7 linked regions of the Homo sapiens genome follow. The protein of the gene in region 2 purifies or fractionates together with the protein of the main gene of each other region. This does not show direct contact. Each region holds a gene or a part of one and is shown on either strand. Other genes may lie near its edges.

What was found.
Region 1: the proteins of ASB4 (region 2) and VPS33A purify together in Homo sapiens (co-immunoprecipitation; one large-scale study listed by IntAct). This does not show direct contact.
Region 3: the proteins of ASB4 (region 2) and OGA purify together in Homo sapiens (co-immunoprecipitation; one large-scale study listed by IntAct). This does not show direct contact.
Region 4: the proteins of ASB4 (region 2) and NCOA4 purify together in Homo sapiens (co-immunoprecipitation; one large-scale study listed by IntAct). This does not show direct contact.
Region 5: the proteins of ASB4 (region 2) and AKAP10 purify together in Homo sapiens (co-immunoprecipitation; one large-scale study listed by IntAct). This does not show direct contact.
Region 6: the proteins of ASB4 (region 2) and HSPB8 purify together in Homo sapiens (affinity purification with mass spectrometry, with the first as the bait; one large-scale study listed by BioGRID). This does not show direct contact.
Region 7: the proteins of ASB4 (region 2) and ZNF195 purify together in Homo sapiens (affinity purification with mass spectrometry; one large-scale study listed by BioGRID and IntAct). This does not show direct contact.

The regions. Positions count from the first base shown.
Region 1 is NC_000012.12:122,249,495-122,252,994, forward strand, and holds part of VPS33A (vacuolar protein sorting-associated protein 33A), read right to left. Parts: exon of another isoform or gene 3,368-3,500; intron 1,606-3,367; coding exon 1,489-1,605; intron 552-1,488; coding exon 377-551; intron 1-376.
Region 2 is NC_000007.14:95,488,943-95,492,442, reverse strand, and holds part of ASB4 (ankyrin repeat and SOCS box protein 4), read right to left. Parts: intron 1-3,500.
Region 3 is NC_000010.11:101,804,945-101,808,444, forward strand, and holds part of OGA (protein O-GlcNAcase), read right to left. Parts: intron 2,958-3,500; coding exon 2,786-2,957; intron 1,200-2,785; coding exon 1,101-1,199; intron 1-1,100.
Region 4 is NC_000010.11:46,020,624-46,024,123, forward strand, and holds part of NCOA4 (nuclear receptor coactivator 4), read right to left. Parts: intron 2,756-3,500; exon of another isoform or gene 2,707-2,755; intron 1-2,706. UniProt on the Homo sapiens protein: Cargo receptor for the autophagic turnover of the iron-binding ferritin complex, playing a central role in iron homeostasis. Acts as an adapter for delivery of ferritin to lysosomes and autophagic degradation of ferritin, a process named ferritinophagy.
Region 5 is NC_000017.11:19,936,329-19,939,828, reverse strand, and holds part of AKAP10 (A-kinase anchor protein 10, mitochondrial isoform 1 precursor), read left to right. Parts: coding exon 1-116; exon of another isoform or gene 117-199; intron 200-3,398; coding exon 3,399-3,500. UniProt on the Homo sapiens protein: Differentially targeted protein that binds to type I and II regulatory subunits of protein kinase A and anchors them to the mitochondria or the plasma membrane.
Region 6 is NC_000012.12:119,185,431-119,188,930, forward strand, and holds part of HSPB8 (heat shock protein beta-8), read left to right. Parts: intron 1-1,594; coding exon 1,595-1,658; intron 1,659-3,500. UniProt on the Homo sapiens protein: Involved in the chaperone-assisted selective autophagy (CASA), a crucial process for protein quality control, particularly in mechanical strained cells and tissues such as muscle. Displays temperature-dependent chaperone activity.
Region 7 is NC_000011.10:3,369,147-3,372,646, forward strand, and holds part of ZNF195 (zinc finger protein 195), read right to left. Parts: intron 2,558-3,500; coding exon 2,431-2,557; intron 1,925-2,430; coding exon 1,829-1,924; intron 1-1,828. UniProt on the Homo sapiens protein: May be involved in transcriptional regulation.

The sequences.
Region 1 (3,500 bases), on a different chromosome or scaffold from region 2:
AATTACAAGTGTGAGCCACCACACCCAGGTGGTTCCATAATATTTCATAATGTACTCAACCACTGAGATTGTTTGGAAAATTCTGGTAAGAAAATGGAAATCGAAATTCTTATGCAAACCTCACTGATCCTCTTTTTTGGAATGATTCCTCAAGGCACATTCTTAGGCTTTGGGTTTTCTTTGGCCAAGGGTTAGAAAAGTTTTATGTGTTGCTAAATTGCTTACAAAAAGGTCTGTATTAATCTACACTCTGAATCATTAAAATCGGATCTCTGACTTTAAATTATGCTTAAGTGTGCAATATACAAACAGTAGCCTCCACAAAGGATATTCTTCTCATATTACCTATTAGTGAAAACAGATGTCATGTACTTACTGTTCTGAATGCCATAAATTTCATCAATGAGTCCTTCATATGTCAGCTGAGTGGCAAGAGGTGTTAATAAATCCACATTCCGATCAAGCAACAAGAGATTATCAAAAACAGGAAATATTGAATTCTGGCTTCCTGTAAACTCTCTCTTCATCCTGATCATCATATTGGCCACTTGCTGGAAACAAAACATTGGATGAGGTGGGGCCCCCCTGGGAACAAGCAGATTTTAAAATTTGTCTAAAACCAGAAAGACAATCAAAAAAGTAAAAAAGGAGAAAAACTGGAAGAGTGCATTGCTTAGAAATAAGCAGCTCTAGAAAAGCACCTTGCTGTTGGCACCCATCCCGACACTTGCACCAAGGCAGCTGCCATTTGCCAATGAGGCATAAAATCAGGTCAGTCTATTCTTGTGATTCGCAGTAGTTATGTTCTATGAAGTCACTGCAAACACTAAATTAGCGAAGATGGAACCACTGTTCCTAGGAGAAACGCAGACTTAGGTTCCTGGGAGCCTCTGGTCTCAACGTTTCTGTCAATTGATCAATACGTAACCCAGTTTTATATGTGTTTCTGCTTAAAGATGCCTGACTTAACATAATTGTTGATCACTCACACTGAACTGACAGCCAGCAGCTCTGTGACTCGTGCCTGAACGAAGCGTCTCTGACACACGTAATGTCTCCGCCAGGCACACCACAGCCTTCTTGTGCACAAGACACCCGACTGCACCTCAGTCCTACATTTGCAGGCCATTTTAAACAGTGAAATCACCAAAAAAAGTACACACGTGTGGAAAATATGACAGTGAGACTGTGAAAAGTACACTTGTTTGCAGTCTGAGAGCTGAAATGGGAAGGTGGAGTGTCAGCTGCCTCAGTTGGGAACATGCGCAGTGGTTACTCAAACTGTCACCACTGTGCACGCCGACAAAAGCACCATGAGTACTGACTTGGAGGGTTATAAGTGCATTTTAATCAGTAGGCAAATTCATGAGTACAGTATTCATAAATAATTAAGATCAACTGAATTTGTTTGTAAGGAGCTTCCCGTTCCTCCTCCCTTTTGGGGTGTGAAGGGCCCTCCTTTACCACCACAAAGCAGCCGGTTCTCACCCGAGCGCATTCTCCTTTCCCAAAGATCTGGGGGATCGTTCCATACAGAGCTTGCAGGGTCATCAGCCCCTTGGCTGCGTGGTACAGGCTCGTCTGGTCACCCTCCAGGTAGCACTCCTGTGAGGGAAAAGGCCAATTATTGCCAGGCCATGGGGGCCTCCCAGGGGCCCATCTCTGTTCCTGGGGCTGGGGTGCAGCGACAGACAATAAAATCATTTCCAGTTATTTCACACTGTGCCAGGAAAATTGGGGACTCAAGTTCATTTTCCAAAACTGCTGCCTGTCAGACCAGGCGCTGAGGCTGGCAGCCCCAGGGTGGGTGCAGCCGTGGAAGCACCTCTCCTGGGCAGAGCCGGGGCTTCTGGGAGAAAACTGTTCACCCAGCATGCCAGCTCTTCTGAATCAGCTCTTAAATAAAAGACGGAAGAATACAGACTTACACTGAACGATGGGTTCCCATTCACTGGTGAGAGTAAACTCTGGTAGGACATGCTGGGAGAGCGACATGCTAATACCCAGAAATGCAAAAGACCACAGGACGAATACTTTATTGTTTTCAAAAAGGATGAGGCAGATTTTCATGACAACTGACAACTGAAGGCCACAATCTGTTGAGTATGATCTCATTTTATAAAAAATATATATTTTTGCATTGAAAAAAGGACCTCCAACTCAGCAAACTATCACAAGGACAAAAAAACAAACACCGCATGTTCTCACTCATAGGTGGGAATTGAACAATGAGAACACTTGGACACAGGAAGGGGAACATCACACACCAGGGCCTGTCGTGGGGTGGGGGAAGGGGGGAGGGATAGCATTAGGAGATATACCTAATGTAAATGATGAGTTAATGGGTGCAGCACACCAACATGGCACATGTATACATATGTAACAAACCTGCATGTTGTGCACATGTACCCTAGAACTTAAAGTATAAAAAAAAAAAAAAGAAAAAAGAATCTCCAAAATACACACAAAACCACCTGGGAAGGCTAGGTGCAGTGGCTCATGGCTGTAATCACAGCACTTTGGGAGGCTGAGATAGGAGGATTGCTTGAGCTCTTGAGTTTGAGACCAGACTGGGCAACATAGTGAGACCCTGTATCTATAAAAAATTAAATAATTAGCCAGGGATAGTAGCATGCATCTGTATCTGAGCTACTCAGGAGGGTAAGGCAGGAGGATCACCGGAGCCCAGGGATTTGAGGCTGCAATGAGCTATGTTCGCACCGCCACACTCCCCTCTGGGCAACAGAGCAAGACCCCATCTCTTTTTTTATTTTTATTTTTATTTTTTTTTTGAGATGGAGTCTCGCTCTGTCGCCCTGGCTGGAGTGCAGTGGCGCGATCTCGGCTCACTGCAAGCTCCACCTACTGGGTTCACACCATTCTCCTGCCTCAGCCTCCCAAGTAGCTGGGACTACAGGCGCCCGCCACCACGCCTGGCTAATTTTTTTGTATTTCTTAGTAGAGACGGGGTTTCACCATGTTAGCCCTGATGGTCTCGATCTCCTGACCTCGTGATCCGCCCACCTCGGCCTCCCAAAGTGCTGGGATTACAGGCGTGAGCCACCGCGCCCAGCCGACCCCATCTCTTTAAAAAAAAAAGAGAGAGAGAAAAAAACCACCTGTGAGGTGAGAGGAGGGAAGCAGTCACTTTTGATACAGGTGGATCAAAACACAGGTTCTAGACTCAGATTGCCTTGTTCTGAATCCAACTGTGTCACTTACTAGCTGTGCCCTGGGCCAGTTAGAGAATCTCTTTGTGCCTCAATTTATTCATATGTAGAAGGGAGTATAGTCCACATAGGGCAAGTATTAAATGAGAAAAATACATGTAAAGCATTTAATCCCAGTACCTGAAACATACAGCAAATGCTCAGTAACAGTTAGCTTTTATTTGGAATTATTTAGGTTTTTTTACAACCATTATCCACTCATAAGTCAATATGGTACATTTTATCAATTCCCTCCACCCCTACCAACCCAACATGTCCCTGCTGTCCACA
Region 2 (3,500 bases):
TCTTTGTCTTTGTGGAAGCAGAATAGAATTACCTCCAAGCCTGCTTCACAAATCACAAGGAAAGGAAGAAGATCCTCAATTCATCTGTAATATTTCACATCTCTGATATGGAAATGCATTTGCTAGTTGAATTTTTTTCCTCCTCCTAACTTCCAGGTAGCACCTAAAGACTCTATCCTGTTCGTGTATTATGTGAGTCAGTCATCCTTGGCCTCTCAGTCAGTTTCTTCTGCATCTCCTGTAATCATAAACATTATCTGGTCAATCAGGCTCACAGACTACAAGGTCCTGGAATTCAGCCAACTCCCAGAATGGAGTTGTGGTTACAACTCACCTCTCCTAAGATAGGAATGTGTGTAGGTAGGTGGTAACAAGACACCTTAGCTGCTGCCTCTGGGGAGCTGAAGTGGAGAAATGGCAAGAGGACAGTTTGCAGGCTATAGCTTAGGGTATACTGAAGTGTATCTGGAAGCTGTGTTGCAAAACTTTGGTGGTAATGTGGGGCTAGGGATTTTTGAATAATTCAGCCCTGAGCATATCAGGAAAGTCTGCTGCTTTGAGCAGAGAAAAGAGCAGCCCCTGGCAAAAGGGCCATCAGCGTACAATCATCACTTTAAAATGAGGCTGGGCCTACAGGTCACTGTGTAGCAAGTGTGGAAGTAAATACACTTACTGTCATGGAGGACCAAACCCCAGGTAAAGCTATCTTCAAAAACTACAGATGAGGCTGTGCCTATTCACAATCTTCTGCTGATGCTGATATGTCAAGAGATCAGAATTTGTCCCCCAAAATATAACCACCAATGACCACAGCATGCTAGAAACACAATTAACTGATGAGGCAGATTCATTTTTTACACACTCCCTTCTTCCCACAGCAAAATTTTTCCAGGGCTTCGAAACCTAGAATGTGATTTATTCCTAGTATTTGTCTTTCAAAAGCCCCCCTCTGCTCACCTCTGCAGACTTCAGGCTGCCCTTTTACTATGTGTTTAGACTTCACAAAGGACAGAGGTGAGGGAGAACCGGGGAACCAAGCCCATGGGAGCTAGGGGTGGGAGGTGAAGCAGCGGCTGCCTCCCTCTAATGTAAACCACTCACACGCTACCCCATGTCTAGAGTCTGTGTGCAGTGACAGCTCCTTGCAGAAGAGTTCTGTTTGAATAAGAAGCTCCACTAAGAAGAAAAGAAAAATAGAGATTATTTCCCCTGTGTACAAAACCCACAGGAACTCCCAAATACAGGCCATGCCCATGTGGCTTTGACCATGATACATAATCTGTTTACATAGTTTCACCTTCATAATGTGATTAATTATCTGCATGCCAGAATCTGAACTTAGAGAGGGTCTTGTCAAAGCTTCCATTTTACAAATGAAGATAATTAGTCTGGAAGAGGTTAAGTAGTATAAAGTGTCCATGTTCATATAACAAGTACCCACAGAATCAACTCTAACTCTCAAACTCCATTGCCCCCAAATCTTTAAATAGCCGTCTATGATCCGAAGGCTACATGCAGTTTACCTCCAAACTGATATCACTTGTAGCTAAAAGTTCTAAAGGAATTTGAGAAGTTTTATCCCTGAAAAGAAAATATGCAGACTAATCGTGTGTGTGTGCACGCGTGCGCGTGTGTGTTTAATTTAAATCTGAAACCAAAGAGATATGCCCCAATAGCTGGGTAGAAAGCTGCCTAGAAATATAGCAAGGAGCAAAGTGTTTGGGCCTTCTTTTGGAAGAGGGGATTGGTTCTGCTCCAGCGTTTGGAGAGGATGTACACATTTCTGGTAAACCTTCAGCTAAGCCTGGGCTCTGCAACAGTTATCAACTATAATGTTATCTGAGTCAAAAGAACCCCACACATGAGAAGCCTCTGTTATTACAGCCAAAGGTTACACACACTGCTCGTGGCTGGATTAGCAGACATTTGCTCTGCCTGTGTCCATGTATTTACACAGTCCTGAAGGATTACAGACTGAAGCACAATTCTTGGCTATTTTTTAATAGCTAATATTTTCCAGATAACTCAAAGTTCCCCTGGGAAGGGGGGATAAAAGCAAGTTTGAAGTGTAAAATGTAAAAGAAAAAAGTTTGAACATCGAAGAAAGGAAAAGAACCCTAGGATGGAAATGGGAAAGCAGGAGAGTGAATTTCTGGCAAAGAGGAAAATTAGGTGATAAAGAAATTATTCATTCAGAGAGTGGAAATAAGAGCTTTCACAATATTGGGATATAAGTTGCTACTTAGTAAAGGAAACAGAGTACCTGCCAGAAAGTTTTTTAAGTGAAATCATTCATTGGTTATTTTAATTAAAAATATGACTACCAACCAAGGAATCAGTGGCTATGGGCCATAAACGAAGTACTTAAAGTGCATTACCCTGATTAATAAAAGGACTCTGATTAACCTTGCTGACTAGGGAATTTCATACCAAAGAGATAAGTATGAAATTCTGCCTGTATCATTTATGAGCAAAAGCTCATACATCTGAAGGAAGATCAAGTTGGTAAAGCCTTTGGAAACAGTTTTATGGACAGTCCTTCGTCTTTCCAGTATGGAAGTAACCAGTGAAAACCAATAGAAGGGACATTTGTGTTTTCTTTAAAGATTTCTTCTGTGCTTGACTTCACTCTAAATACTCAGTGGTTGGCTCATAATTAATGTTATATCACTGACATCCCTTGACTTTCAATGACTTATTGCATTTGGCAGTTAGAAAGTCATTCTTTATGTTTTCTTTATATCGTTTTTATTTTAAAGTGATCATCTGGTAAACGCAATTTTGGCTTACTTGTTTTTGCTTTTAAGACCCATTATCTCCGCCATTCCCAGGGAGGTCTCTCAAATGCCAACCAGCACATTTTAAATGTTTGCTTTACAAAATGTGAGAAAAGTTTCTTTAAATTAATAAAACATGATTTCATCTGCAGATTTTATTATGAAGCTTAAAATAACTTAGAAAAGTAAAGTGAGAGCTCTCTAACTTTAAGAATCATGATTAGGTGCTGGAGAAAGACAGGATCCACAGTTTGAACATGAACTCTGGAGGCTGGCTTCTAAATCTGTTCTCTGCCAAATTGGTAAGAGAAGCTATTCAATGAGATGGGCCCAGTGCTACAGAGGAAAGCAGAAATGAGCTTCCAGACTTATTTGTAATCCAATAGCTTTATTCTGTCTTCCTCACAAAATACACATTTCATATTTGCTTATGAGCTAAACTTTTGATTACTGGTGTGCCCAGTAGATTGTAAATTTGGGAAGCACTATTTAGATTTTAGGTGATTTATTTGCCAGCAGAGTTCTGAGTTCCCTTTTCAAAAATTATACACTGACTTTCATATAGGCTTAGATGGACTATATTTAGGGATAAAATTTAGTTACTTCTTAAATCCTATAAAAATGCTGTATGTTCTAAATAAATAAGAATGGTTTAGAATTGATTGTACTACTTTTCACTTTCTATAGGACTATCAAATGTTGAATATAGAATTTTAGTATTGA
Region 3 (3,500 bases), on a different chromosome or scaffold from region 2:
TTTTCGTTTTATAAAATAGAAGAGTTTCCTAACGCTGCTTAAGGATGGGATCAATACCTTTTAGCCCAATTCCCTATAAATCTTTATTATTTATTAACTGAATTTTTTTTGAGACAGGGTCTCATTCTGTTGCTCAGGCTGGAGTGCAGTGGCATGATCACAGCTCACTGCAGCCTCTACCTCCCGGGCTCAAGTGATCCTTCCACCTCAGCCCCCTAAGTAGCTGGGACTACAGGTGTGCACCAGCCCACCTGGCTAAGTTTTTTATTTTTTCTACAGTCTCTCTATGTTGTCTAAGCTGGTCTTGAACTCCTGGGGGCTTCCACCTCAGGCTCCCCACTCAGGCTCCCCAACCATGATAGATGTTTTTTCATATTAAGAGAATATGTAAACTTTGTAAAAGAAAGCGTATTTTAACAAGTTCTCTGGGCCAGGTGCAGTGGGTCACATGTGTAATCCCAGCACTTTGGGAGGCCGAAGTGGGCAGATCACCTGAGGTCGGGAGTTTGAGACCAGCCTGGCTAACATGGAGAAACCCCGTCTCTACTAGAAATACAAAAATTAGCTGGGTGTGGTGGCGTGTGCCTGTAATCCCAGCTACTTGGGAGGCTGAGTCAGGAGAATTGCTTGAACCCGGGAGGCAGAGTTTGCAGGGAGCTGAGATTGTGCCACTGCACTCCAGCCTGGGCAACAAGAGCAATGCTCTGTCTCAAAAAAAAAAAAAAAAAAGGCCAGGCGTGGTGGCTCACGCCTGTAATCCCAGCACTTTGGGAGGCCAAGGCGGGTGGATCACGAGGTCAGGAGATCGAGACCATCCTGGCTAACATGGTGAAACCCTGTCTCTACTAAAAATACAAAAAATTAGCCAGGCGTGGTGGCGGGTGCCTGTAGTCCCAGCTACTCGGGAGGCTGAGGCAGGAGAATGGTGTGAACCTGGGAGGCGGAGCGTGCAGTGAGCCGAGATCATGCCACTGGACTCCATCCTGGGCGACAGAGTGAGACTCCGTCTCAAAAAAAAAAGTATTCAATTAACAAGAACAAGCAATTTCTGCAAGTCCTACTTAATTCAACTTTGACTGTATAAATCTTAAAAGACTTACCTGTCCAAAGCACTTCAATTCCAGGTAGAAGCTTTTCACCCACAGTCCTTAAATATGGAGACTGAGACACATTTGGATAACAGAAAGTGCCACAGTATTCTAAATGTAGGGAGAAAAGTAAAAAAGTCAGAATTAAAATGCTCATGGGTTTTCTCTTTGTTTGTTTGTTTTCTTTGAGACGGAGTCTCACTCTTGATGCCCAGGCTAGAGTGCAGTGGCACGATCTCGGCTCACTGCAACCTCTGCCTCCTGGGCTCAAGCAATTCTCCTGCCTCAGCCTCCCAAGCAGCTGGGACTACAGGCGCACGCCGCCACGCCCGGCTAATTTTTTTTTGTATTTTAGTAGAGATGGGGTTTCACCATGCTGCCCAGGTTGGTCGCAAACTCCTGAGCTCAGGCAATCCGCCCGCCTTGGCCTCCCAAAAGGCCCATGGGTTTTTGAATGTGGAAAAAATGTCTGCCAATTCTAAATTATTTTCATCTAAATGATAAAAGGCCTCCTACAAGGAACTAAAGTGGGCAGTTCATTTAAGAAATTCATAAAATCTGGTATTTTTCCTCCAACAGTAGTACAGATCAATTCTTACGATACTACAGTTACTAGAAATACAAGTTTACTAAAAAAACAAGAACTGCAGCATTTTCTACAGAATTCTGAATTGCCTACTTTTCTCAGTTACAATTAAACGCCAAACAGAATGAATTGATAATATCATAATAGAACTAATACAAGAATATGCCAATGGCAGCTGGGCACAGTGGCTCACACCTGCAATCCCAGCATTTTGGGAGGCTGAAGCGGGTGGATCACTTGAGCCCAAGAGTTCGACACTAGCCTGGGCAATATGGCGAAACCCCGTCTCTACCAAAAATATAAAAATTAGCCAGTTTTATAGCCCGGTCTCTAAATAAATAATACAAACTTAAAAGTAAAATTTAAAAAAAATTTTTTTAAAGGCATATACCAATGGCTATTAGTACTCAACTGCAACTTAAACTGTAACTTGCAGCTAATTAATTCCCAGTATAATCTTAAAACTTCTGGGTACTAATGTAGTACTCAACTAAAATAAGGTTCTCGGCTCACAATACACACAAAGAAAGTTAAATAATTTAATCTAAAATTCTTCCTGAACAAGGAAGTGTGGGGAAAACTTCCTGTAAGTTGAATTTTGAGAAGCAACTAAGAGACTAAAATATTTTCAATGAAAGAAACCAGAGGGGCAAAAAGAAAGGAAAACGGGAAAAACTGTTAAGCTTTCTATGCTGACTACTTGAAATAAGAGCCCAGATGGGAGTGGGAGGAGTGCAAAAAGGGACAGATATGCATGGGCAGAAAAAGGGGACAAGTAGGAGGAAATGAGAAGTGACTAAGGTAAAAGCAATGTAATTTGGTTTTTCTCCAGTTTTCATTTCAATACTATCCCTCTTTTAATATTGACAATGTAATGTTCATATACTTCCAGTACTTAAAAATACATAAAAATCTTTTGCCTAGTCAGTTGTCATTTATTAGTTCCTAAAATTTCTCCAATTTAGGATCTTGAAAAATGTCTTCTAAAAAAAGATTCCTACTTTTACACACCAAAGGAGGAGGGAAGTGGAGAGAGAATGGGGCCCATGGTCCTTTATAAGTTATATATTCCAAGAAGACTAGTTAAATGTAAAGCCATTATATACAATACCTGTGGGACAGAAGAGGAAAGTTTCTGGCTCTCCTAGGTACTGATAGATTTCATTTGTGATGGAGACTTGGGCATGAGCAAAAGAACTGAATACCTCTTTGTCTGCTGCACACATATTATGGTCTATATCATCAAAAAGCAAAGCAAATGATCTGCACCCAAACTGAGAAACCTAGGAGAAAAAAAAAAAAAAGAATCAAGAGTAAAAAAATTAAGAATTCCAAACATTACAGCGTTAACAGTTATACTTAAAATCCAGTATTTTCCTTACTAGAATGTTCAAAGACAGATTTATTGTTTTTACATTTTCAATTAAAAAATCGTAAGTTAAACAGTTTTGGGACCCATTTCTCATTTGGGTTTGAATGCACTACAGGCTGAGTATTCCTTATCTGAAATGCTTGGGACCAAAAATGTTTTGGATTTTCATTTTTGTTTTTTCCTGGATTTTGGAATATCTGTATTATATTCAGCATCCCTAACCTGAAAATCCAAAATCTGAAATGCTCCAATGAGCATTTCCTTTGAATTTTATGGAGCTCAAAGAGTTTCATATTTTGGAACATTTCAGATTTCTGAATTAGGGATACTCAACTTATATGACAATATGATCCAACAAAGTGGCCTAGCCTCCTAGTCCTCATGGGCTGCTGCTGATTGTAGAAGACCCAACAAAGTCAGAAAAATACAGAAACATGAGTAAGTAACCTTAAGA
Region 4 (3,500 bases), on a different chromosome or scaffold from region 2:
ATTTAATAAATATTAGATTTCCATCTAGTCTTTCACTATACAGCACAGCAAAAGGCAATCTTTTATTTACTCCAAAAACTCAATAGTCTAAATCCTCTAATATATACCAAGTATGGATATTTTTGACTGTTTTCTTACGTGTAGAAAGATTGGACCAAATCAGCTCTGATCCTAATATTCAAATCAATAAAAGATTACTAAAAATGTCTTTTTATCTTCACCATTATAATCCAAAATATTGCCTTGCCATCTTCAAAAGAGGACTGCCTTAAATGTTTATGTTTTGAGACAACATTAAAAGTTTAAGTGCTTTCTAAAACTTCCCTGCCTCTAGTATCCCTGTCCTAAATTTGGGGGTGGAGGAAGTAAAGGAGGAGGAAACACACATACCCTTCAAACGAATAACAAAACCTGGAGTTTCCGCAACAAGGAATTCTTTAAACTATATATGCCATGCTTACACAATGCTTTGCACAAATCTATTTGTGAAGTCTGAAGATCATGGCACCAGAATTGAGCAACTAACCACAAATGAAGTGGTTATGTAATGAAGCTAAGTCATTACTGTATGGCTTAACCATAAAATTTCCAAAGAGCTTTAACTCTTGTGACCCACACAAACTACAATTTAAAGCTGAAAAATAGCTCCTCACAAGCCTCTTTAAAAAAATAAAAAATAAAGCTGGAAAAAATCTTGGTCATCTCTTTAATATAACACTCTCATTCTACATATGAAGCCACAAAAGCCCAGATAGTTTAAGTGACCCATCTGAAGGGCCACAGCCAGAAGGGGTAAGATTTGGGTTTAGAACTACAGTTTCCAAGGTCTAGTCCTGGGTTCTCTCTCCCAGATGAGCTTGTTCTTCCTTTAGTGTATTATCACCTGTAAAGTATTTTTACTTGCCAACACTAGTGATTAAAATTAACATTCCAATGGATTACTATTGAAATAACTTCCGTTAAGATTTTCAGTCAATTTTCATAGTCCTCAGTAAATTATAACCACAATTGTTCAGAATCTTCTGCCTTGGATAACACTAACAAAAATAGTACTGGCCGGGCGCGGTGACTCACGCCTGTAATCCCAGCACTTTGGGAGGCCAAGGTGGGCGGATCACCTGAGGTCAGGAGTTCGAGACCAGCCTGACCAACATGGAGAAACCCTGTCTCTAATAAAAATACAAAATTAGCCGGGCGTGGTGGCGCATGCCTGTAATTCCAGCTAATCGGGAGGCTGAGGCAGGAGAATCGCTTGAACCTGGGAGGCGGAGGTTGCAGTGGGCCAAGGTCGCAGCCATTGCACTCCAGCCTGGGCAACAGGAGCGAAATTCCATCTCAAAATAAATAAATAAATAAATAAACAGTACCCTTGTATGTCATGATAGGCTCAGAAAAACCAAAACACTGCCAAATACCAATGCAAATAGTTTTGATTCAACGTCTGTATCACAGCCACTCCAGGCTTCATTCGTCTGTAAGAATGAAAGCTCAGACTAGATCATCTGTAACCTCACCTTCCAACTCTCACATTCTCTGCCCCCCTTGCCACCTGCCCCTGCCCCTCCAAAGACCTCTACTTTTTACTTATTTGCCTGGCATCCTAGTCATTGCTAAAAGGCCAAGCGCAGCATCTATCCACAGGATACCTATGTGTTCTATGAGTACTACACTCGAAATACTAACTGAACAATTTGGTTATCTTTGATGAGACAACCTGCATTAGACCGTCTGTAAAGCTTTTAGTTTAAAAAAATTATGTTAAAAAATATTTTGCAATTTTACCTTGAGACTTTTTTCACTTCACACGTTCTTTCTTCCGTCTTTTTTTTAAAGGTTGGTTTTGGGTTTTTTTTTTGTTTTGAGACGGAGTCTAGCTCTGCCGCCCAGGCTGGAGTGCAGTGGCGCGATCTCACTGCAAGCTCCACCTCCCGGCTTCATACCATTCTCCTGTCTCAGCCTCCCAGGTAGCTGGGACTGACTACAGGCGCCCGCCGCCACGCCCGGCTAATTTTTTTGTATTTTTAGTAGAGACGGGGTTTCACCGTGTTAGCCAGGATGGTCTCGATCTCCTGACCTCGTGATCCGCCCGCCTCGGCCTCCCAAAGTGCTGGGATTACAAGCGTGAGCCACCGCGCCCGGCCTAAAGGTTGTTTTTTATACAACTCATTAACTCAAGGATTATATACATCTTACCTTAGCCCCAGCCCATTTTAAATTCCTTATCAAGACAAGCAGTTTCTGAAATCCAGAATCTGGTTCTCTGTAATCTTTTTAAAACCACACAAACAAACGTTAATATCGCAACAGATTTAAAATAAGATAATAATAAATTCACTATTGAACATTTTAAGATTTAACACTTCAGAGTTTACTAGGCTCAGATTTGTCCACCTTTATACAAGCAACTGAGGGCAATAAATCCCAGCACATCAATTTTCTAAAGTAGTAACTGAAAACCGACCGCAAGGCATTTCTAATTCGAAAACAAGGCATTTCTAATACGAAAGCAACAGTGACTCATGCGGCTTTCTAGACTTCCCAAAAGCCCTTTCCAAGCGGCCTCAGGAGCCCTTGCCCTCGCCCCGGTCGCCGATTCGCACGCAGTTGTGCAGTCAGCCGCTGCGACCCGGCTCCTGCCCGGCGCCAGCCCTGCAAGGCTACCGGCCTCAAGGGCTCCCGCTACGGCCCCTGGGCTGCCAGACGTACCTCACAGGCCAGGTCACCGACTCACCAGCTGCCCGGCAAGCGACAGGCTGCTTTACCCCTGACCCGAGTGCGAAAGGTCCCCGAGCCCGGGCCTCGTCCCGCCCACGCGTCACACGGCAACTCCAGTTCGCCCGGGCCACTAGCGAGCTGGAGCGCTCAAGCCAAGGGCGGGGAGGAGCGGAAAACTCCGCCCATTGTTGCCCTGCTCCCAGCCAGTCCCCGCTGGCGCTCGCGGCCCCCCTGCAGCTCCCTCCCCGCTGGGCCTCCCTGCTAGACGCCTGCTGCCCCCGCCCGGCCCCCAGGGTAAGGCCAGCTAGAAGGACCTCGGATGGCACCTGGGGCTCCTCTCCAGCCTCTCCTCTCCCCACTTGCTCCACCCGATAATGGGCCCAACTCAATGAGAATTATATATGAACTATAATGAATTACATGAATTAAAATGTTTAGGACAGTGCCTGGCAATATAGCCCTACCTACCTGTGACTATCATGCTTATGGTACTTCTAGCTTTCCCTTTTCTCCAAGATAATCCTCATAGCCTGCATATGCAATCAGGCCAAAAGATGAAATCTAGACAATGTTGTAATTCTATTACCTTTCAGTCGATTTTTTGAATGTAAAATACTTGCTGTTGTCTATGCATATAAAGCTGTTTTTGTTAATATTAAGAGTAAAGCAAAATCACATGAGAAACACCAAAGGGGAACACTAAGGAGCCATTACCCTAAATTAAGTATCCCTTAGATTTCAGATGAACAGAGTGGAAGTGCCTGCTTTGTCTGTGATGCATACAA
Region 5 (3,500 bases), on a different chromosome or scaffold from region 2:
GTGAATATCTTACAATTCTGGTTGGCAGCAGATAACTTCCAGTCTCAGCTTGCTGCCAAAAAGGGCCAATATGATGGACAGGAGGCACAGAATGATGCCATGATTTTATATGACAAGTGAGTTATATTGATAGATGGATTCAGCAGATACTTATTGAACATTTGATATGTTTTGTGGAAATAAAGATGAATAAACTCAGTCTCTGTTGTCAAGGAGCTCACAGGAGGCAGCATAAAAGCTGCTTTTATATGGTGTTTGTAAAGCTTTGGGGGTTCTTAGAACAAAAGTTTCTGCTGGGAAAGGGGAGGTGTATGTGGGGTAAACAGGATGGCAATGGTGGTGTTCAAGGAGTGTTTCCCAGAAGAGAGATTTTGTTTGGATCCCAAAGAAAGAAGGGAATTTTGCTACCCAGAGAAGGCAGAAAACAACATTCTAGGCAAAGGCATTGGCCCAGAAGCCATGGAAACGTAGGGGAAAGTGGCACTTTCAAGAAACTTGAGTTTAGATAATCAAAGGAGTGGGGAATAAATATGAGGATGCTGGTACTAATTGGAATAGATTGTAAGGGACCTTGAATGCCTATTTATGGGTATATTATACTTTCTGTATAAATCTGCTCAGGCACGTTGTTAATTAGTTTTTTATTAGTTTTCACTGAAAATGAGAGGATGGAAACATCATACAGTAAACAAAATTGAAAATATCTGGTCAGGCAGATGATGAGCTTGTGGCCAGCTCTGTAACGTATGGTATTCTTTTCATTTAACTTTTCTTACTCTGTAAAAAAAGTAATTCGTGGTCGGGCACGGTGGCTCACTCCTGTAATCACAACACTTTGAGAGGCAGAGGCAGGTGAATCGCTTGAGCCCAGGAATTTGAGACCAGCCTGGGCAACATGGCAAAACCCGCCTTTACTAAAAATACAAAAATTAGCTGAGCGTGATGGCGTGCGCCTGTTGTCCTAGCTACTTAGGGGCCTGAGGCAGAAGGATCACCTGAGCCTTGGGAGGTCGAGGCTGCAGTGAGCTGTGATCCACTGTACTCCACCCTGGGCAGGGCAGTAGAGTGAGACCCTGTCTCCAAAAAAAAAAAAAACAACAAAGGTAATTTGTTATTTGTATCCTTAAGCAAATGCTAAAGGGGTAACTTGGGGATAGAGAAAAGTCCACAGATGTTAGGGTTTGAAGACACTAATAGTATCTAGGCCAGTGGTTCCTGAACATTAGTCTGTGGGCTCTTGCTGGGCTGTCTGCATAGGAATCACCTGAGAGCTTATTAAAAATAGGTTTTCAGGCTGGTTGCGGTGGCTCACGCCTATAATCCCAGCACTTTGGGAGGCTGAGGCAGGCGGATTACTTGAGGTCAGGCGTTCAAGACCAGCCTGGCCAACATGGTAAAACCCCGTCTCTACTAAAAATACAAGAATTAGCCAGGCATGATGGCACACACCTGTAATCCCAGCTACTCAGGAGGCTGAGGAAGGAGAATTGCTCGAGCCCGGGAGGTGGAGGTTGCAGTGAGCGGAGATCATGCCACTGCACTCCAGGCTGGCTGACAGAGGGAGACTCTGTCTCAGAAAAAAAAAAAAAAATAGGTTTTCAGTCTGGGTACCGGTGGCTCACACCTGTAATCCCAGCACTTTGGGAGGCCAAGGCAGGCAGATCACTTGAGGTCAGGAGTTTGAGAACTGCCTGGCCAACATAGTGAAACCTTGTCTCTACTAGAAACTACAAAAAATTAACTGGGCATTTTGACGGGTGCCTATAATCCCAGCTACTAGGGAGGCTGAGGCAGGAGAATTGCTTGAACCCGGGAGGCAGAGGACTGCATCTCAAAAAAAAAAAAAAAAAAAAGGTTTCCAGTCCCCCTGTCTCAGAAATTCTGATTCTGCAGGTTTGAGGTGTGACCAGGAATCTTTATTTTTAGAAGACATACCAGATAATTCTGATAAATAGCCAGTTTAGGGATGTAGTCTAATTTTCCTATTTTGCAAGTAAGGAAAATAAGGCCCAGAGAGGTAATGATTTTCTCAAAGTCACAGAACAAGTTAGTGGCAGAATTTGGACTGGAATGCAGTTCTTAATGTTCTGTCCAGTGTTTATTCTGGTACAGTATGTTTGTAGAAGGTATTACGTAAGAAACATTGTTATATAGATGTTGAGATAGGAAGAGTTTACATTTAGAAATTTGGTCTAAAATGCCTGAACATTCAAGTCGTGGAGGAGTATTGACCAACTTACTCAATACAACATAGGAGATTCACATTTTGTTACAAAAATGCTGATTTAAAAGGAGAGTTTTCTTTTTTTTCTTCTTTTTTATTTTTTGAGATGGAGTCTTGCTCTGTCACCCAGGCTAGAGTGCAGTGACACGATCTCAGCTCACTGCAACCTCCACCTCCTGGGTTCAAGCGGTTCTCCTGCCTCAGCCTCCTGAGTAGCTGGGATTACAGGTGGGGGCCACCACGCCCAGCTAATTTTTGTATTTTTAGTAGAGACAGGGTTTCACCATGTTGGCCAGGCCGGTCTTGAACTCCTGACCTCAAGTGATCCACCCACCACTGCCTCCCAAAGTGCTGGGATTATAGGCGTGAGCCACTGTGCCCAGCCTGCTTGTTTTTGTATCATATATATGCATCATCATAATCATGCATTATCAACCTTTGTATTTCTGTCAGGACATAGAAACCATTAGAGTGCTTGGAAGAGAGCCTTTTTTTTTTTCTCGCATTTAATGCTTTTTTTGGTATTCATTTCATAATCAGCTTACCAAAACATTACCTGCATTATACCCCATCAAGGTAGAAATCTTTGTGTTATCAATATTGGTTACTCCCTTTCCACACCGAGTCATCAGTAAGTCCTGTTCTATCCAAATAGGTCATATGCATCTAGCTCACCCCTCAGTGCTGTTTTGTTTTGAATTTGTACATGTTTACTCCTGATGCCTTGTAGTTATGATGATGTGTTCTTATTTTATTCTGTGCATACAAGTTCTCAGCTCGCTTTTTAGGGAAAATGACCATGTCTTCCTTTCCTATAAATTCCTTTCTATCTATCAAGTCCTCAACAGAGAATAGGTACCCATAAATATGTGATTGTTAGTTTCTTTGCCTCAGTTGTAGTCTGATCCTTACAGCTTTTAAACAACAGTAGAGTTCACCGTCAAGAACTAAGGATGGTTGGCAGGCAGATAGAAAGGTAGCAAGTTGACCCAACTATCTCTGGGGAAGTGGGAACAAAGAAAGGTTACATCAGCACTGTCATCACATAGCTCTATAGTTCTAGGCCTGCAGGCTCAATCAAGTAGCCTTGTATAAGATTCTCTGGAGGAGGTGCTGAAAGTTGCTTATACTTGCTATGGAATTTGATTTTACTTCGGATATCTTTTTACCATAGGTACTTCTCCCTCCAAGCCACACATCCTCTTGGATTTGATGATGTTGTACGATTAGAAATTGAATCCAATATCTGCAGGGAAGGTGGGCCACTCCCCAACTG
Region 6 (3,500 bases), on a different chromosome or scaffold from region 2:
TCAAGCAATTCTCCTGCCTCAGCCTCCCAAGTAGCTGGGACTATAGGCACGTGCCACCATGTCCAGCTAATTTTTGTATTTTTAGTAGAGACGGAGTTTCACCGTGTTGGCCAGGAAGGTCTCGATCTCTTGACCTCGTGATCCACCTGCCTCGGCCTCCCAAAGTGCTGGGATTACAGGCATAAGTCACCACGCCCTGCCTATTATTATTATTATTATTATTTTTAGAAACAGTGCCTCTCTATGTTGTCCAGGCTGGTCTCAAACTCCTGGCCTCGAGTCATCCTCCTGTCTCAGTCTCCCAAAGTGCAGACATTATAAGAGTGAGCCACTATGCCCGGCCTATTTTCTGCATTTTCTAACATACACATGCACTATCTTAAAGCACAAAAAAAGCTATTAACAAAGAAATAATTAAAAGTAATTAGCTATAAGTTGTCAGTTTAAAAAAATCTGGACTGCTATATTCAACAAAGTTGTTTACATTCTAGATTTCAAGGCCCCTCAGAAGCACCTCCCTGTGTAAATGAGGGTTCTTGCCTCCAGAAGGTGGCCCCACAAATGAGGAGTGAAAAGTAACAGCCGAATGGCCCCACTGTTGTACTAATCTTGTTTGTTTAAAGAGAAACTACAGACACTCTCTCTATTAAAGAAAAAAAGAATGAGGAGAGACCGAGAGAATTAGAATGTGCTATATACATTACAAGATCAAAACCAGTTTAGGCCCAAGTCTTCTTGTAATTTCATCTTTTTCCTCCCTGAGGGGGTTGGGAAGCCCTCTCTTACCACAGGTTAAGAGGCGAGAGGTCTGGTGGAATTTCACATCCACAGTGCCCTTAGGAAAAGCTGGGTGTTTTTGGCAGATTGAAGCATTCTTTTTCCAGGCTGTGCTTTCACTACTGGGTACAGATAATGTGGCTTAAAGAGCTAATCGGGAGCTGGAACAGACAGAAATTCAAGAGCAGAGAGGCATCAGGACCTAGAACTTGGCCTAGACTCAGAGAGAGCTGATTCAAAGCTCAGAGCCACCAGGGACCTGCTGGGCGACCCTGGATCCATCACCAAGCCTCAGTTTCCATGTTGGAAACAAAGGGAGAACGACGTCTGGGCTCAGAGTTAGGAAAGCACTCTGTTAGCTATAAAGCAAGCTACATGGCAGAGTCGCCCTCAGCATGTGACCCCGCTTCAAGCCTGCCATCCAGTCTGGGATGTCAGACCCAGGGTTCTACTGGCAGGTTAGAGAAGAGGAGTCAGGTGGGAGACTTGGAAGATTTGGTACAACACATGGAAGATTTGGTACAACACAGAAGTTTCTGCGATTTCCTCAGACTAACCCTTAATTAACTACAAACCACGGTCTACGCCTCCTTTCCATCAATTATCTTATTTCACCTTCATAGCCAGCCTTGGAAGTGGACTTAGGTGGGTCTGTATGGCAGACAAGGTCCTTGAGGCTTAGATAACTAGAGTCTCTAGGGTAGGCCTAAGTCACACAGCAAGGCAGGTCCAGGGCCAGGATTTGAACCCAAGCCTCAGTCCTGAAGGATGCCCAAGGAACATAGATGCTGACACGCCACACTTTTCTTCCTTCCAGGCAAACATGAAGAGAAACAGCAAGAAGGTGGCATTGTTTCTAAGAACTTCACAAAGAAAATCCAGTAAGTAACCTGGAGTCATGGAGCTCAGGGTGGGAGTGGAGGAGGGGGCACACCTGGGACCCATGATCTGGGGTCTCTCCCTCTTGGGCATCTCTCTTTTAAGACACCTCCTTGGGGCAGGGAATTGAACCCTCACACCTAACGAGGAGAAAATATCCCAGCAGACCTGTAATAGGGTCCCAGAAGGGGGAGCACATAGATTGCATCATCTCATCTGCTCGGTGCCCTGTGAGGTGGGTATTAAAAACCCCATTTTATTTATTTATTATTTATTTATTTATCTTGAGACCGAGTCTCACTCTGTCACCCAGTCTGGAGTGCAGCGGTGTGATCCCAGCTCACTGCAACCTCCACCTCCTGGGTTCAAGCGGTCCGTGTGCCTCAGCCTCCTGAGTAGTTGGGATTACAGGCATGTGCCACCATGTCCGGCTAATTTTTTGTATTTGTTTAGTAGAGATGGGGTTTCGCCATGTTGCCCACACTGGTCTTGAACTCCTGGGCTCAAGCGATCCACCCACCTCAGCCTCTCAAAGTGCTGGGATTAGAGGCTTGAGCCACTGCACCCGGGGAACAACTCCCTTTTATAGACTAAGCATCTGAGGGTAAGCAAGACAATGACTTGTCCACAATCACACAGCCCCTACCCATGGGGCATAGCTGAGGGAGGACCCCTGTCACCATCCAGAAAGACCATCCCCTGATTCCCCAAATGCCCCAGCAGAATATCTTCCAGGCTGCTTGCTCAGCCTCTGCCCTGCCAGGAAAATGAGCACCTTCTCTAGGGCATCCACAAAAATGAAGTTGGAAAGTGTCCTGAGAACACTGCATACTACCCAGAGAGGTTTGGAGGCTGAGACACTGGGACACAGGAAGAGCTATTTTGCTGAGGGGAGTAGAAGGGATTCATGTTTAACAGGGAAAGGGAGCCTGGGGGAACCGTGAGAGCAGCCAAGGACAATCAGGCTGAGGCCATGAACCAAAGCCACCACGAGCCCCTAGCTGGCAGTACCTATAGGGAGCAGAGTTGCACAGTGTGGTCACGATGGCTGCACTTAAACAACTGCCAGGTGCTTCATACATACCTTCTCCCTAATCAGCAATCAGCGTCACTCCACTATGTGCGTTTCTGGCCCCTAAACTCTCTCTCTCTCTCTCTCTCTTTTTTTTTTTTTTTTTGAGATGGAGTCTCACTCTGTTGCCCAGGCTGGAGTGCAGTGGCACGATGTCAGCTCACTGCAACCTCTGCCTCCTGGGTTCAAGCAATTCTCCGGCCTCAATCTCCCAAGTAGCTGGGATTACAGGTGCATGCCACCATGCCTGGCTAATTTTTGTATTTTTAGTAGAGACGGGGTTTCACCATGTTTGGCCAGCCTGGTCTTGATCTCCTGACTTCAAGTGATCTGCCCGCCTCTGCCTCCCAAAGTGCTGGGATTACAGGTGTGAGCCACTGCGCCTGGCCCCTAAACTCTTTTCCAAGCCATCGTTGCATTTAGCCTTTGCAGCAAAAGTGTGCATCGGAGAGGAGACATGACCCTCCTTGCAATACAGGGAAACTAAGTCTCCCACAGGTGAAAGGACATACCCAAGGTCTTTACAGCTAGAATTTAGAAGGGCCCAGAATAGATCCCTGACCTCTGAGTTCCATGCTCAGTCCTTGGGCAAGGAATGCTGTTTCCTCATCTGTGAAAGGGATGCTGATTCCAGCCTTGCAGAGTTCCTGGCTGAAAGTGACATAAGGTCATGGCCCAGCGTAGGTCCTCATAAGTGGGAGTTCATTATTACTATTGTTATTGTTGACTCTTAACTTTTCCATCAGCCTTTGCAAAGAAATTCTGTGTGTGG
Region 7 (3,500 bases), on a different chromosome or scaffold from region 2:
AGTAACATATTAGGGCTGTGCAAAAGTAATTGTGGTTTTTGCCTTCTAAATAGTAAGAAATACTCTTACTTTTGCGCCAATCTACTAACAATGTTGATAAGGATGTAAAGAAAAAACAATTCTGAACGCTCAGAGTTCTCAACTGGTAGAGTCATTATGAAAACCAGGGTGGGGGGGCGTTATTTAAAAGTTAGAAAAAGATAAACCTACCCTGCAACGCAGCAATCACACTTCTGTGTATATAATAACTGAAGGGAATAAAAGCAGCATCTTGAAGAATTATCTGCTCCCTCATGTTCACTGCAGCATTATTCACAATTGTCAAGATATAAAGACAAGCTAAACGTTTGCGGATGCTGAATGGATAAAGAAAATGTGATATAAATAGACAATAGAATATTACTCAGCCATAAAAAAGGAATGAAATCCTGTCATTCAACCACGTGGATGACCCTGAAGGACATCCTGCTAAATAAACTCAGCCAGGCCCCAAAGACAGAGACTGCACGTTCCCCCTCAGACGTGGAATCTGTCGTGGCTGAACTCACAGGAGCAGAGGACAATGGCAGTTGCCAGGGCCTGGAGTTGGGGAAAATGAGCTGTTGTTCAAAAGGTACAAACTTTCAGTTGTAAGATGAGTAAGTTTGGGGAATCTAATGAGTAGCTTCACGAATACTATTAATAATCTTTTGTATGCTTAAAGTTTGCCAACGGTAGACATTAACTGTTCTCACTACAAGAAAAGGTAATTACGTGAAGTGATAGATTTGTTCCTTGAAGTGATTGCACTAATTATTTCACAACGTATACACATATCAAATTATTACATTGTACACAATATATACACAATTTTTATTTCTAAAATAATCTGTTACACATATGCCCACATAGACACACTGTATATATGTGTGTGTATATATACATGAATGGATAAAGAAAATATGATTTAAATAGACAACAGAATATTACTCCAGCATAAAAAAGAATGAAATCCTATCATTTCAAAAGGATATGTTGATATATTATATATACACACATATATGATATATACACACACATATATACACACATATATACACACATATATACATATGCACACATACATACATATGAATGACAGAGTCCTGATAAGCCTCATACTAAAAAAGAAGAAATTATAAAATGATAATATTATAACTATTACAGTTGGGAGTTAGGGAATATAAAGTTTAAATGACCAACCTCAGCTCATACTAAAAAAAATAAAATAAAATGTTGAAGTAAAATAACATTAGATTATCTCATATTTGGGCAGATGCCTAGTGTTCGGAGAAAACTGCTGAGTATACATTTCTGTAGACTCCCATTTGAAACCTCTGTAGGATACGAAATCATAAAGCAGAAAGCATACAACATCTGTTTACGGGACTTCTGGGATTTCTGAACCAATCACCATCACCACGCCTCTCGCACACTTCAGACATGATGCAAAGGAAATCAAAAAACATTTAACAGAGTTCCTCAAAAACAGGCAGGTACAGGCATGTTCCCAAAAGCAGTGGCGGAGCACGCCATGAGACCACACAGGCCCTTACTCGTCAGGAGGAGGACTCTGATTTTTACTGTAACCTTTATAAAGGAAGATCACTAAACAGGAAGCAGAGTCTATACAAAATTTGAGAGAATGAGACAGAAGACGCTCCTAGGGTACAGCAAGAGAAAGACACCCAGGCTCTCAGAAACCATCTCCACTAGGGCAGAGCTTCTCAAACCACATTTTAAGGTCTGGCTTCCTCCTCGACCTCTGGACCTCTCACCTGGGTTACCTGCTTCGTTCATTCCCACCCACCTGGATGTCCGTCTGCTGCCTCCTGTCTCTTCACATTCCAGGGCTCTTTTCGTTGCTCCAGGCAGGTGATCAGGCCTGGCTTACAGACAGTGAGACCTGTTTTATTAGAAAAAAGTGACATTACTCTTGCTGAAATTCTCCAATTATCAACCTTGTACTGTGCTTAGTAGAGTGAACATTATATAAGATTCTAGAAAATTAATCCCAAAATTATGCTTCCTGACATCACCTTTAGAATATTCAGTAAGTATTTTAAATCTGTGGGTTCTTAGTTTCACCACTCAGTACTGCTGACATAAAAAATTGGTGGTGGAAATTTGACTTTAAGTTGTGGGCAACAATATTTCATGCCACTGAATTTCTGGAATTGTCACTAGAGTGAAAGATACAGATCAGCTGAAAAAAAAGGAAGGTTTATGTCAAGATGAACCACATTTTGAAGATTTTTTTTTTTTTTACATCAACTATTCCCCATGTTTTTCTTAAAAGCAGGGATCTGAAACTCATTCATGCAACGCAGAAACTCCCAAAAAACATTCCGCAGAGGAACGAAAGGAACTCTTTAGGGCATAGGAGGAACTACGTATTGAAGTTATCCTCACCAACGGAGAACAAGTTTCTGTAGTTCTCCAACATCACATCCCTGTACAAATTCTGCTGAGCGAGGTCCAGGCATTTCCACTCCTCCAGGGAGAATTCTATGGCCACATCCCTGAACGTCAACAGAGTCTGAAGAAGAAACAACAACAATAACAAATACTTGATTCGAGGTGAAATGAGCGAGTGAAGAGAACTGGTTCTGACTTACACAAGTGACTGAAATTATACAATAAGGTAATTCTTAGCAGAAGAATACTCTCTAACTCTGAGGAAAGAGAATTGCCTGAGAGCCACATAAGCAGTGTATATACAATACTTTTCTGGTTGATAACAAGTATAACATTAAGGGCATCAACAAAGGCATGTCCATTTTTGAGTGCTACATTTACGTCACATGAATAAGCTGTGTATATTTCGCAGGCAGAAAAGTCATGGTGAGTTAGAAGCTGCCTCTCCAATTTTCATGTGTCCAATAAACTAGTGTGCAGATTTTGCTTCAGGAAATCGGAGGTCAAGGCTGAGTTTCCGAATTTCTAACGCGCTCACCAGTGATGCCAGTCCTTTGGGCCCAAGGACAATATTTTGTCAAAAATCCTGTAAGTGGCAAGCTTGGGTTTATCCCAGTTTTTCTAAACCATAAAGAGAGATGAGATTCTTCATCTTCTAAAGCAAGGCATATGCAAAAAGAATCTAAGAAGCAAAACCTTTCAGATTAAATGTGATTATTTATGCACATTAATTAGTAAATCTCCTCAAGGTACTTAAAAGAGAAAAAAATAAACTCCACAATGGAAAATCTGTCAGGGAGCTCTTTAAACAACTGAATAAAACTAATATCAACTGTAATAGGACAGATTTTTATCACGTGCCAATGCACAGAGAAGGACATATTACTGGTGTGATATTGGCCAAAAGGTCAATTATAATCTGAATCAAATCATACCGAAACCTTAGTGTTATGCAAAGTTCAAGAGACAAATAAATATCTCCCAGGTTCTGACAAATATCTCCCAGGTTCTGACAAATATTTCCCAGGTCCTGACAAATATCTCCCAGGTTCTGACAAATAAAT